Linked DNA regions of Homo sapiens: region 1 is linked to region 2. The links come from fine-mapping of genetic effects on gene expression. A gene starts in region 2. The other region holds a variant in brackets. All regions are shown on one strand. Distances are between the middles of the regions.

Region 1 (2,928 bases), 360 kb before region 2:
CCTGTAATAGAATTCACATTCTTTGATGTACATGACTATCTCTTAGTAATCATACCCTTTTTTTCAGTGCCTAGGACTGTATCAGGAATGCAGGCATTCAATAAAGATTTCCTGAAAGAATCCATACATAAGTGAGTTAGGAGTCTAAAATGAAAATGGAAATATTAAATAAAGGATAAGGAAAAGGGGAAGAAAGGGACTGAAACAGCTTACATACAACAGTCATTCTTTCAGGATTCTTTTGGCCAAATAAATGCCTGTACTAAGACAAATTTTTACTGCTTCAATTGGCTTCTCTGTAAAAGGTAGGGCACATTTATGGGGAAAGAAATTGATACTGTAGCTTATGCACCATAAATCACATTACAATTAACTTCCTTTCTATAAAATAAAGAAGCTAGCTATAGCTTTTCTTAATGCTGATATCCTGGACATATTCTTAACATAGCAAAGCTTGAAATTAGCATTATTAAATCTTTCTAACTTGTATTTATTTGGGATAAGAGTAGGGGGGTCAGCAAAATTTTACTTACAGAAAATTAGAATTATTTTCTAATTTCCTAATATAGAAAAATAGAAAAGTAAAATTATATACTTGTTCAATAAAGAAGTGTTCCAGTTATTTATTGTTTCATAATAAACTACCCCCAAACTAAGTAATCTAGAACAATAATCTTTTATTATATCTCAATATTTTATCTGACTTTAATTCAAGCGGGACTCAGCTGTATAATTCTTCTGCTCCTTGAGGCATTGACTGTGGTCACTTTGCGATATTTAGCTAGATGAGCTGTTCTGGAGGGTTTGAGGCAGCTTTCTTCGCATTCCAAGAGCCAGGGTGGGGGTGGCTGGAAGTTTGGGCTAAGATGGGCCTCTCTCTCTCTCCATGTAGTCTAAGTACCTCTTCAGCACTGAAGGTGAACTTTATGTATGGTGGCTCTGGCCTCCAAGAGACCAAGGTGAAAGCTGTTATACTCCCAAAGGTCAGGACCAGACCTGATATAGTGTCAGTACTCTAATGGTTAAATCAGTGGCAGGGTGGGATTCAAGGATGTGGCGGAATAAGCTTCATCTCTTGGTAAGGGAATAGCACATAATACAGGCACAGGAGAAAGAAAGGCAGCCATCTTGGGATGGCTACCACAGAGATATAACTTTATTACTTTTAAGAAGATAAGAGTAATTTGATTCATGTTTCAATCAATCAATCAATAGTTACTAAATGTTTTTTGTGCGCTTTACTCTCTGCTCAGTTCTATTGGTCCTGCCTTGAAGTCCTCAGAAGACCTGTTTTTATAAGTAAATGTTATTACCGATGATACATTTTAGAAAACATCACAATTTAGCCTTAAGAAGAAATCAGCTGTCTCTGCATTGGGTATCAGAAGAGGGAGACGTTTTATTCTAGCTATGTGTGAAACTTTGAGTAGTTTAGCAGATATTTTCAAGTTTCTGTTTATCTGCAAAATTTACTCAACTAATTTTTATTTAGTAAACACTCTATATCTTTACTGGTATAAGCACTGATGATACAAAGAAACATAGACTATTTATGTCCTCAAAAGCTTTCAAGGAAGGGACACATTCACAAATAATCATGATATACAGTGATGTGTGGAACACTGAAGGTTTCTTTCATATCTAAAGTGATGTGACTCTATGAGTTTTAATTAGCTCATAAATAATTCGTATTTAAATGAGTGTCTTTGAAGAACTTATTAATATTTTCTTAAGAATTTAAAATATGCATCTGTACAATTTGTTTATATATTACTTTGACCACGTTTTAATCTGTTCTTAAA[G/A]AGTCATAAAACTCTGGAACTGAAAGTGACTAGGAAGATAAGATATTCAACCCTTTTTTTTATGGACAAGGAATCTGGGACAAAAAGAGGCTAAGGGACTTGTTTACTTCACAGGGCAGGCCAGGCCAGCATGTTCTGCATCTCACAGATCTGCCTGCCTATGAAGACATTTTGGTACAGCATCTCTTTGCCCGCTGAGGTGCTAAAACCCAGAGCCTTGTAAGTATTATTGTACTTGGTTTATCTTCTCCAAAATTCCTGTGCTATTTTAATGAAGAGAACATCTTAATCTCTCTCCTTCACAAATTTTGAAAATTAGGCTGTGACATGTTGACATATACTTCTTTGGCCATGGAGAAAAGTCCCTAACTATATACACGGTAAGCATACCACCACAAATTCTAATTCTATTTGTTCTGTAATTCCTAACTGGAGATTCGCATAGAAAACACAATTGTTCACAAACATAAAAATGTCTTCATTACTCAAACCACAGTATTATCTTTATTTTTTAATGCCCATGACCAACAGGACATGTACTAGAGACATGGTTTCTATGAACCTCTCTTTTCTTTCTCTGAATTTTCAGGGAGAAATACAGATTTCCAAAATATTGGTACTGGGAGGAATCCTTAAATGCCTCTAAATTAATCTCCATGTTTTGCAGATATGGAAGCTGAAGCCAGATGATAGTTTTTTTTTTTTTTTTCTAAGGCTCCATAGATAATGACCAGAGCTTAAATCAGAGTTCAGCTTTTTGGTTCCCAGGTAGTGCCCATGTCTGAATGAAAGAGCTTTGCTAGAGCATCCTAAGAAAACTGCATTCTCATTTTGGATGTATGCAAAAATGAGATTAAAGTCATTCTCTTCCAAAGGGAAGGAATGCTAGTGTTTGCCATATATCAGGGAACAGCTTCCAATCCCTCTGTGCCTCTTATTTATAAGGACGTTTTATTCTCGAGTGATTCCTTGGTTTACAAAGGTATGCTCTGGATAATAGGTAAACATTCCACTTGTCTTAAAAAAGTAAGACAAAGGGAGTGAGATTTCCATTTTTGCTTCAATAATTTGTTGCTGATATCAAAATTGTTTGCTCTAAAAATTCCTTGAGCCATTGTTTTCTGCC
Region 2 (2,843 bases):
CCAATAATGAGCGAGCTTGGATTCGGTGCCCCAATGGACAATACAGTGACTATGGAAGCAATCTAGCCACTGACAGATCTGTGAAATTATTCCTACAGTCTTACAATGCAACATTTTTAAAGTTTAAATACCAAAATTTACAATAATAAAATTTGAATAGCAATCTCAACTTATTTTTGCATTCCAGAGATTTAGTCTATGATAGCGATTTCTATCTTTGGTCTTATCTTTTGTTGAATAGCTTTTTGGTTGTGTTTTGTTTTGTTTTTTAATATTTGGCCTTTTTGCATTGGGCCAACATGTATACTTGGTAGACCTTTAGTTTTATTCCATCTACTCATATCTTCTATTCTCACAATGCTGACTCTTTCATCCAGGATTTCAAATTCTCAAGTTCCAAGCCTGCAAATTTGCTTTTCTATTAGCTCTTAGATAAATCGCAGGACCCTACTGCATGGCTCCTAATCCAAACAAGCAAAAAAAAAAAAAAAAAATACACCAGAGGAAAGTTTTTCCCAAGAAATAACAATAGTACTATTGTATTTCTTTATGACTTTATCGGGACTTTCATAAACATTGTCTCCAATTCCTGATTCCCAGACCTCTGGACCTATAATTTCACCACAAGATAAGAAAAAGGAATTCACTTTGGCTGAACTGTTAAATATGTTTAAATAAGGATTTCTAAACATCACCCCCAGGTCTTTTTCTTCTGTATTTTCCTCTGGCCTTCTATTTATTTGATGTCTTTCAGTTAGGTATTACACCTCTTCGTTTAAATTACATTTATATTACCCCCGTTCATTTGAAAAGATAGCTTCATTTACAAAAGTAATGAATTTATTGTCTTACCTTCATGTTTGGGAAAACATTCAGGGCAGAAGAGAGGAGGAAGATTTCCTCTGTAAGGGCCGGGTAAGTTTTCAACAGCAGGAAGAGCCCAGCAGGCTGCCTGCCTCTCTGCCTCTCCCTGCTCTAGATTATCTTGGCACTCATATATAGAGCAAGTGGTCCTGAGATTTAGCTCCTACCCCAACCGGATTCTCCAACGACAGCAAGAGCCTGACCTTGTACTTAATCTGTGCCTTGAAACCAGATGCATCTTATCAATTACACAGCCTTAGCTACAGCCAGCTGGGACTGTTTGGAAGTTATAGATATGTTTCTTAGAAACATATCTATAAATCAGGAAACACAGCAAATGTTCTCAGTTCAATGTTTAAGTGATTTTCAACCAAAGGAGACTCTGTAAGGCAAGGGATGAGCCTCCTTCTTGTTTCAATCTACTAAACTAAGTGGATGTTTTCATGATTCTCTTAAAAGGTGTTATATGCCAGACTTTGAGATTAAATATTTTATGAAAGAAAATATTTAAATGCAGTTCTGTCACTCAAAATCTAAATAGAATGTTCTGGAGTAGAATTTTTCCCCAAAGTACAGCCTAATACAACCCAATAGTCATCCCTTCATGCTTAACTTTCACAGAATAATCAGAAAGAATATCAATTTTTGTAAACATATTTGAGGACATCACTAATTTTCTCAAGAACTTCACTTAATCCTTTGATAATCAGATCACTGTGTTGGAAAGTTCTTCTCAGGGTCATTATCCACATCCATTTTCTCTCCTTTGCTTTTTATCTTGTCTTATTCTACCAGGTCTTTATTTTCCCATAGCTTTGCATTGATTCTAGCAAGTCCCCAACATCACCTTCATACATTTAATAAAATGCTGCTTATTTTGCAAGATTTTAGATTTCCTATTGAAACTGAGCTACAGTTGGCCAGGCGCGGTGGCTCATGCCTGTAATCCCAGCACTTTGGGAGGCCAAGGCGAGCGGACCAAGAGGTCAGGAGTTCGAGACCAGCCTGGACAATACAGTGAAACCCCGTCTCTACTAAAAACACAAAAAAATTAGCCAGGCATGGTAGCATGCACTTGTAGTCCCAGCTACTCAGGAGGCTGAGAGAGAAGAATCACTTGAACCCAGGAGGCGGAGGTTGCAGTGAGCTGAGATCGCACCACTGCACTCCAGCCTGGGAGACAGAGTGAGATTCCATCTCAAAAAAAAAAAAAAAAAAAAAATTGAGCTACAGTTTTATTTGTATTGTTGGACCAAATATTCTAACACTAGCTGCTAGTGCATTATGAGTGAGGTAGAATAAATGTTAAGCGGGAAAGAAAATTTGAGTTAAGAATAATTTTATAAGTAAACATTCCATTAGTGAAGATTTTCTAGCTTTAATGACTTTTTCTTCCTATATCCAAAGCACTGGAATAATAAAGACAACCCCTATCCTCCCCTCATAAATTAATGGTGGTTTCCAGAGACAAAGCTTCCGCATCTTTTGTTCAAAGCTTTAGTGATTTGTGTGGAAGAAATTTTGTCACAGAGACAAAGATCCTGACTCCTGAAAGAAATATTTTTTATTCAGCTCCAACTGCATAAATTCCAGATGCCATAGACTCATCTTAAATTCTCAATATACAATTCCATTTCAGCGGCTCTCTTAGTTTGGGTTCCCCCAGAAGTAGATTCAGAAACAAGAATTCAATTGCAAGTAGTTTGTTTTTGTTTTTGTTTTAAGAGATAATCTTAGAAAGCACCACTGGAAGTGGGAAAGTGAGATTGGGGAGAAAAGAAAGTCAATAAAGGGTGTTTTATCAAGCAAGAGACTCCAGTGGGCAATTTGAGTTCAGTTCTAATGAGGAACTCTGAAAGACATTGCACACGAACTCTGCAATTAAGAGTTAGTCCAGCCAGGTGTGGTGGTTCACACCTGTGATCCCAGCACTTTGGGAGGCTGAGGTGGGTGGATCACTTGAGGTCAGGAGTTCAAGA

Which allele goes with the higher level. Alleles are on the strand shown, and positions count from the first base shown. SD is a standard deviation of normalised expression in the study named.
As copies of A replace G in region 1, the expression in testis of the gene that starts at base 972 in region 2 goes up (small effect, 0.21 SD a copy in GTEx).

Evidence for each region. PIP is the estimated chance that this variant, and not a neighbour inherited with it, causes the effect. A credible set is the group of variants that fine-mapping cannot tell apart.
Region 1: its variant is the best candidate, but not a certain one, in a credible set for the expression of C7 in testis (GTEx, PIP 0.89).

What each region holds. Positions count from the first base shown.
Region 1 is chr5:41,265,584-41,268,511 of GRCh38, reverse strand. No RefSeq gene overlaps it. Among named protein-coding and RNA genes, the nearest start is that of C6, 54 kb to the right of the region's middle. The variant G/A (reference allele first, on the strand shown) is at 1,803.
Region 2 is chr5:40,907,626-40,910,468 of GRCh38, reverse strand. C7 (complement C7) reads right to left here and starts at 972. Exons shown (of 18, transcript NM_000587.4): 1 at 853-972. The coding sequence starts at 858.